2 separate regions of the Homo sapiens genome follow, and region 1 is linked to region 2. The links come from fine-mapping of genetic effects on gene expression. A gene starts in region 2. The other region holds a variant in brackets. All regions are shown on one strand. Distances are between the middles of the regions.

Region 1 (4,387 bases), 560 kb before region 2:
CAAAACAAGCCAAATATTATACCAATAGTAGTACACATTTGTTGTTTCAGGGAGAAGACTATAACAGATAAAAATCAATAATGTTTTTGTTCCAGTGGATTAACTTCATGCTTAGAACAGAAAGAAAATCTAAATGGATGGCTTTTCTGCTTTTTCCTTCTCAGTAATATGATGCGGTTATATCAAAGGGAAGAGTTGGCAGAGACAGAAAGTTAGAAGGCTAAGGACATTTTCTAAAGCAGGAAGGAAGATTTGAAAAGAAGGTTAGATTCTCCCTGACCTGTCAAGTTGGTGGCTGAATGGAACTTAGCTGGCTGGTTTTCTGCCCTTCAAAATTATCTTTGGCCCTCAAGTAGGAACTTCCAAGGGTATCTGACAGCAACAGATACCCTTGGACAAAGGCCTCCAGACACAAGAGCTCATCCCTTAGCAAGAGTTGATTGGACCAAGGTTGAGTGAGTTTCTCTCCCTGGAATTTGGAATCAGGCCACAGAGCCATATGCCTTTCTCTTAGGCACTTGAAATGGGATGTGAAGACAGGTCAGGTTCAAGGTGCCTGGACTGGCCCCATGAGTGAGGAACCAAAGAGAGCCAGCCTGCAGGCATAGAGAGAGAGAAATGACAAACGAGGAATGATCAGGTGTCATGACAGCCACCCCATTCCCAACTGTCTAGGTTCTGAGCCTTGTCCATTATGAGGCCAGCCTGAACTTCCTGTGCTTGGAATTCATAATATTCCCTCGAGTCCTCCTAGAAAGTGCCCTTCCTCCACCTTTTTGGTTCTCAAAGTTAGTTTAAGTGTGTTTCTGTTCCTTGTAAATTAGCTAACCACGGCTGTTGTAACAAACTGCCACAAACTGGGTGGCTTAGAACAACAGAAACTTATTATCTCACAGTTCTGGAGGCCGGAAGCCTGAAATCAAGGCATCAGAAGGCCATGCTCCCTCCTAAGCCTCTGTGGGAAGATTATTCTTTGCTTCCTCCAGCTTCTGGTGGCTCCAGATATTCCTTGGCTAGTGGCTGCACAACTCCAGTCCTGCCTCCATCTTCACATGACCGTCTCCTCTTGTCCCTGTGTCTTCTCCTCTCCTCTCTCATCACTTGTCATCTATTTAATCCAGGATGATCTAGATCCTTAACTATATCTGCAAAGACCCTTTTTCCAAATAATGTCACATTTATAGGGACCAGAAGTTAGGAGTTGGACATATCTTTCTGGAGGCCACCATTTAACTCACTATACCTTACAGCCCACTGGGCCCTAAGATGAGTTTACCGAATATTCCTGAGCAGCCTTGCAAAGTGTGAGTGATCAGCTGATGCACAGCCCACAATACGAACTGTTTATAGATTCTGAAGGATGATATGTGAATAAGGCAATTGGAGTTTTTTTTAATGGGAAAAGTGTTTTGTGGCATTTTGTTTTTGAATATTCTGGGATAGAGTGAAGCCTTGGTCTATCACATCTGAAGTCACACCTTCTCCAGTCTCTTTTGGATTGATGAGAATAATTATAATGTAATGGCCACTGTGATGTACTGCTAGGTGCCAGCTGCTGCACTTGGCTTTTTTTTGTTTGTTTGTTTTGAGTCAGAGTCTTGCTCTGTTGCCCAGGCTGCAGTGCAGTGGCAGGATCTCAGCTCACTGCAACTTCTGCCTCCAGGATTCAAGAGATTCTCCTGCCTCAGTCCCCTAAGTAGCTGGGACTACACGCATGCACCACCATGCTCAGCTAATTTTTGTATTTTTAGTGGAGATGTGGTGTCACCATGTTGGCCAGGCTGGTCTCGAACTCCTGACCTCAGGTGATCTGCCCACCTTGGCCTCCCAAAGTGCCGGGATTACAGATGTGAGCCACCACGCCCGGCCTGTACTAAGCTCTTTATATGGCATGTCACTTCGAATCTTTACCATGATCTTTTGATGGTGGGATTATTATCCCCAGGAGTCACACCCAAGTAGGTCAGTGCTTTAAGCCACCAGGATGGCCTTTTTCAAGATCTGGCATTTTGCGGGCTATGGATATTAAAAGAAGATCTAGTGCGGGCAGCACCGGCCAAGTGCCAGTCAATACATTTGGTGCACTATGTTTGTTATCTCACGTGATCTTTACAGCTCCTCCTTGAG[G/A]GAGACAGTGCAGAAATTAGAGGAAGGCCGATCCCACTAACCAAGGCTTCTCATGGATATAACCTGCTGAAGTCAGTGAGACAAAGTCTCAGATATTCCAGCTCCTGCAGGCCCAGGGGGATCAGCCCCTACAGATCTACTCCCAATAACTTAAAGAAACATGACACATGTGGACAACAGAATGGCAATTGGAAACTTAAGTTGACAAAGCACCCCTTGAATTGGAATGCTCTTCTTACTTGAGAAGCTGCCCATCTCACCTCCCAAGCTGTGAGTCTGGAAGGGAAGTGAAGTAAAGCAGCCCCCTAGAGAGAAAGCTTAAAGCTTCCCTAGGCAAGTTTTTCACCTTAGTAATTTTCCACCCCAACCCCAGAGAGGATTTCCTTTCAAAAGCCTCACACTGTACTCATAATTTCCCTCTTCCTACTAATTGCCAATAGTACTGCTTCCCCTCCTCCTCTCTCCCTAAGAGTTGAGGACACGGAGTTCAGATCAAAATTACAACCTTCCTTCCCCCTCCATTCCTCCTCATGTAGCTCCATCCACACAGTCATCCAAGTCAGCCACCTGGACGTCTTCCTCAGCTCCCCTCCGCCCTCTGCCCCAGAGCCATCGGGCATCAAGTCCTGCCTACCTATCCGCCTCTCAGTGACTTCCCCTCTCCCTAGCCCTCATTGCCCTGGATTAGGTTCCCAGCATCTCTCTCCTGGACTTGGTCAGGTCTCCCTGCCTCCATCATTCTTTGTTTTCGTTTGTTTTTGTTTGTTTGTTTGTTTTGTTTTGTTTTGTTTTGTTTGAGACGGAGTCTTACTCTGTCGCCCAGGCTGGAGTGCAGTGGCACAATCTCGACTCACTGCAAGCTCTGCCTCCCAGGTTCACGCTATTCTCCTTCCTCAGCCTCCCCAGTAGCTGGGACTACAGGCGCCCGCCACCACGCCCAGCTAATTTTTTGTATTTTTAGTAGAGATGGGGTTTCGCCATGTTAGCCAGGATGGTCTGGATCTCCTGACCTCGTGATCTGTCCGCCTCGGCCTCCCAAAGTGCTGGGATTACAGGCGTGAGACACCGCGTCTGGCCTGTTTTCATTTTTTTTTTTTTTTTTTTTTTTTTGAGATGGAGTCTCACTCTGTTGCCCAGGCTGGAGTGCAGTGGCACAATCTCGGCTAGCTGCAACCTCTGCCTCCTGGGTTCAACCATTTCTCATGCCTTGGCCACCTGAGTGGCTGGGATTACAAGTGCACACCACCACGCCTGGCTAATTTTTGTATTTTTAGTAGAGACAAGGTTTCACCATGTTGGCCAGGCTGATCTTGAACTCCTGGTCTCAAGTGATCCACCTGCCTCAACCTTCCAAAGTGCTGGGATTACAGGTGTAAGCCACCAAACCCAGCCCTCCATCAGTTCTTAATTTGATCTTGTTGTTTCTTTGCTTTTGTTTGCATCATTTTCTTTTACCTCCACACGGGGTCAGAGACCTGGCAGGAAGCCTCACGCAGCTTCTTTTACCGGCAAATGGCAAAAATCTCCATTCTGGCATTGCATAAGCCTCCAGCAGTGGTTTTCAAAATGTGTCCAGAGGAACCCCAGCTTCATGGTCCCTGTTGGAATTTTTTTTTTTTTTTTTTTTTTTTTTTTGGTGGAGTCTCACTCTGTTGCACAGGCTGGAGTGCAGTGGCATGATCTTGGCTCAACTGCAACCTCCACCTCCTGGGTTCAGGCGATTCTCTTGCCTCAGCCTCTGGAGTAGCTGGGATTACAGGCATACACCACCACACCGAGCTAATTTTTGTAGTTTTAATAGAGATGGGGCTTCACCCTGTTGGCCAGACTGGCCTTCATCTCCCAACCTCAAGTGACCCACATGCCTCGGCCTCTCAAAGTGCTGGAATTACAGGCGTGAACCACCATGCCCAGTCCCTGTTGGAATTTTGATTCCAGAAAAGAAATTCTGCCTGAGTTTTGAACAAATTGAGGACAAAGTATTTAGACAAATGGAAATAAAAATATCATCTTTATTACTGAAAAAGCTATATTAGAGGATGTGGCTTAGCTTTGGCCAAATAGCATGGTGACAATTCCCTGAATTAAACCACAGATGCCCTACACAGCACAAACATTCCTCCTTCTTGGAAGTGACTGCTTTGAGAGGCGGGTTCCCAGGTGTGGATAGAGAAATACGAATTAACATGCACACCCAGGGTTTAGACTTTTGTAAAAGTTGTCAGGCAGCATTTCTCAAAGCTTGCACCTTGGAACACTA
Region 2 (4,387 bases):
TTTTCCATCCCTGAATTCCTTTAATAGGCATATAGGGATCTGCCCCTCAATCTAGCACACAGTCATCTATCACCTTATCTTTTGCTCCAATTATTTTATGTATTAGTGACTTTTGTCCCAAACTAAGATGTAAGTTCCCAGAGAGCTGTACAAACGAATATCCTGGCTGCCTAATAGAATAAGAAGATCATTATACTGGGGAACAAGAGTCCATGTTTTTAGTCCTAGCTTGTACACTAAGTAGCTGTGAGACAAAGACTTGGTGTCCCTGTAAAATGAGGACGTTAGAATAGATTGTGTTCAAGAATTCCTCTAGCAACAGATAGTAGGAAGAGAATGGAATGAGAGTCAAGCATTCACTCATTCATCCTGCAGGTAGTTTCTCAGCATCCACTGTGTGCCATGCACTCTGCTGGGTACTAGGGACACAAATGTGGTTTGATTTTTTTTCTTCTGTCACTATGTCCTTTGGGAAAATCATTTAAATTGCACTGGCCACAGGTTCTTTATTTGTAAAATGGGAATCATCATTTTTACCTCGTCGCAGTGGTACTGAGGATTGAGTTACAGTACGCAGCACAAGGGGCTCAGTAAACCCCACACCTCTCCCCTTTGATAGTATAGGCCATGAGTGGGAAAAAGTCATTCGCGGAACATCCTTTATATCAACTGCCTCAATACGACGTGGTTTTGCACCCTGACAGCACATCTGCCTCTTCATAGGACTCCTTCTGCTTGGTGTTCACATTGCCTCCTTGCTTTGCCTTGCCATAGTGCAAACTCCTAGGGGCCCCAGCCACACTGCCTTCCTTACTACTTATAGATCTGGAAGGGAGAAAACGTCTTTGCTTCAGCTGCTCACTGCTTAACGCTAAGGTATGTGCCAGATCTCAGGGCTGGGCAGAGACCCGGAAGGTGAGAAGACAAGGCTTCTGAGCCCAGCAGGGGCTCACAGGCTGCCTAGGGAGGCTGCCTCAAGAGACTACAATACACGAAGGAAATGCTGTAGGAACCCAGAAGGACGGTTGGTCCAGGGCTACGTGGGCAAGGCTTTGGTCTGAATTTTGGAGTTTAGGGCGGGGCTGGTCAGATATTAACTGGCATCCCGGCAGAGGAGCCAGTAGGATGAGGCCCCAGAATAGGCTGAAGCCAAGTTGTAGCAAACGCCAAGGTGTTCATCCTGTGATCAAAGAGGAGCTGCTTAAGGTCGGTGAGCTGAGCTGAGGGCATTAAGGTATGTGTTAAAAATGACAATTGGCAAGCATGGGCGGTGGGCCGGCCCACAAACGGAGAGGCCTCTTAGGCAGCGAGGAAGCCTGCCAGCCCCTGGGCTGCCGCTGCAGGTCAAATACGCCTAGCGCCCTCTTTCCTCCAGCTGCCTCCTTTCTGCCACTTTCTCTGGGGAGATCCCTTCACCCCTGGGTGTCCTTCCCGCTCCTTCCCTCCAGAAGTCTCCTCCGCACACGCAGGCCCAGGGCCCGGGCGGCTGGCATGCGAGATTCTGAGGCGCAGGCGCAGGCGCAAGGCGTTGCCGCAGCGCGGGGCGGGGGGAGAGGGGTTGGCGGGAGGAGAGCGCTTGTCCCAGGTCCCTACCAGGTGCCCGTAGACGTCGGCAGGCTGGAGGTAGAAGGTGGAGTTGAGCAGCTCTTCCAGCCTGCGCGGAACGTCGTTCTCCCGGTAGTACTCCATCGCCTGCTGCTTCAGCTTCTGCAGCTCCCTAGTGGTCCCACAGCTGCGGCCGCCGCCTTCTTCCTCCATGGTAGGAGATTTAAGGCTACAGCGGGGTTTAGCCTGGGGTCCCACGAGCGTCCCTGCTGTCGCTAGGCAACGCAACGTGATCCCGACCCCCAGATCTCGCGTGGCTTCCAGGCCTAGGTTCTTCCTGCGGTAAAAGTCGTTCCCTTTTATTGGAGCTAGGATGGTATTTGCGCTCGCTGCTCTGTCTTTTCTCCCTGCGGCATTAGGTCCGGGGGTTGGGCTCCTCCTAGACTCCCGAGACTAGGGCCCTCCCGGCTTCGTTTTTCACCACTTTTCCCTGGCGATTTTCCAGAGGGGGAAATCTTTAACGACCTCATCAAGCGCGTTTTGCCGGAGCGCGGCAGCCTTAGCTCCGAATTCCGGCTGGGGTCGCGCGCTCGGGTCCCAGTGGCCCAGCGTCTTGGGCCACCCCGCCCTCCCCACGCGCCCCCTTGCTCTCTGCTGTTAGTGAGCTCCTCCGGGTTGCTAAGGCCGCCCGTGCCAGGCAGGCCCACTCTGTTGGGGGAGGGATGTAGGGGCTCAGGGCATCCTTACTGAGCGGTGGCGATCTCAGGAATTCTTTCATTCGGCTCATGTTTATTAACTACCTGCTCTGAGCCGAGCCGTGTGCTGGCTGGGCCTGCTATGATGTCCAGGAGAGAAACGGCCACTTGCCCTTCTCTGGGATATTAGTGGGGGTGAAATCAATGGAATGAAAAAAACCAGTGTGGGTTGAAAATATCTGGGGTGAACCCTAAGGGATGGTTGTGGTTTGGGCAGACCTAAGGATGGGGGATGATTCAGGCAGGACTTGGGGAGGTAAAACGGAAATGGGGGAATGGCCTTGGCTCACGTTCCCTCTCCAGAATGCTGCCTATGTCCTTGCCCTTTTCAATCCGAAGTGCCTTCCTGGCTTCATTGTACCTGCCAGGTATCATGCGATTACAGAACTTAGTGTGCGTCCTCAGTTCTAGATACTTCCTCTGCTGCAGGAGTGGGCGGCGACGGACAGGGTGTTCTTGTTCCACTCACGCCTGTTTATGTTTCCTACCTAAGCAGATCAGTTACAAGATCTGTGCCACACTTTCCCCCCTCTGGAAAACATCATCTTACCTCCTCTGCCTGTTTCCCGAGTCACTTAGTACAAAATGAGGAAGTGAGTGAGAAAGCACTTTGAAACACAGTTATTTTCAATACATGCACGTATGGGTGCAGATGCATAAAAATGTGATGCTATAAGTACTGTTACACAAACCCAGACATGCACCTTCCAAACTTCCTCCGTGTTCTCTCTGCTCTCTTACGGAACGTCTCACTGTCTGTGTGTAATGGACCATCATGAACCTGCCTTCTCTCCTTGCTAGATGGAAATCCCCTGACGGTAGAATCTGAGTCTGTGTTACCTTCACATCCACCACGGAGCCTGGGGCCCTGCAAGGGCAGAGGATGTGCTCTGCTGAATAGGTGTTGAGTGAACCCTTATGCAAAATAAGCTGACACTATTGCTGCTGTTTCCATTTCACCTTTTTGCCTTTCCTCATACACCCCTGGAAGAAAGGCACCTGCTTCTCTCCTATGTTCATCCTTGAGTGCCTGGGTTGAGTCCCACATCAAAGAAGCCACGTCCACAATCCAGCTCTCACTCCAGCCAGCCCTTCCTTCTGAACTCTTTCCCCATTTGCAGCCTGGACCACAAAGTTCAGCCCTCAGGGATGTCTTGATTCATTTGACATCTCAATGGAAGATTGCGAGTATCCTGGGCTGGGACCACCATGTCTTAAGAGTCTCCCCCTATAACCCTATAACCCATTTGCCTCAGTTCCAGGAGGACAGCGACTTGATTTGTCTTGTTCGCCACTGTGTCTGCAGCATCATTACATTACCTGATGGAATAGCTGCTCAGTAAATATTTGTTGAGTGATTGAATGGGTTTTACACATAATAAATGGTTAATAAGTACTTAACTCACAATCAGATGTTTTGGAGGTGGGTGAGTAATGAGTACACCAACCTGGCTGGAGCAAAGGGTTTCTTTTCAGGAATAATGAGAAATAGGGTGGAAAAGTAGTTTGAGGTGAGATTATGAAGAAGCTGGAATCCCATTTTGTAAGAGAAGGAAGCAACCACAAATTTCTGAATATAGGAAGGGCAAGAAATAAGTGGGGTTTTAGGAAGTTAACTTGCAGCAGTGGGTAGCATTGATGGGTTTTTGTTATACAGAAAACAAGAGACAGAGGCAGAAAATAGTATATGTGCAAGGGCCTAAACACTGATGGCAACCATGGGAATTGATGAGTGAGAGAGAATAGGAAGGAGGGATGTAAAAGGCTTTGAGTGGTTGGATGTGGTGGAGTTGGGGAAGCAAAGATGGCTTTTGAGATTACCTTGTAGAATTCTGTGATAGTTAACGGAAATAGGATCAGTGCGTCATCTGGTTTTGATGGAGGCGATATGATGCATTGGGTGTTAGATGTGTAGAGCTTGAGTAGCATTGGTATCCCAGAGAAAAGGGAGGACTGAAGATCCTGATAGACAACATCCACATAGAGTTCAAAGTTGTAAGAACAGACGAATCCTTTGGAGGGCAAAGGGGGAAAATCGTTTTGAAGTAGGACCTAAATTTTGGGGAAGGAATAGATTTAGGACATAA

What was found. PIP is the estimated chance that this variant, and not a neighbour inherited with it, causes the effect. A credible set is the group of variants that fine-mapping cannot tell apart.
Region 1: its variant is the best candidate, but not a certain one, in a credible set for the expression of ENO4 in nasal epithelium (TOPMed, PIP 0.51).

Annotation. Positions count from the first base shown.
Region 1 is chr10:117,405,175-117,409,561 of GRCh38, reverse strand. No RefSeq gene overlaps it. Among named protein-coding and RNA genes, the nearest start is that of PDZD8, 32 kb to the right of the region's middle. RefSeq lists a cis regulatory region at 257-615. The variant G/A (reference allele first, on the strand shown) is at 2,128.
Region 2 is chr10:116,846,938-116,851,324 of GRCh38, reverse strand. ENO4 (enolase 4) reads right to left here and starts at 1,826. Exons shown (of 14, transcript NM_001242699.2): 1 at 1,594-1,826. The coding sequence starts at 1,758. It also overlaps a transcript of HSPA12A not described here. RefSeq lists an enhancer at 3,010-3,179.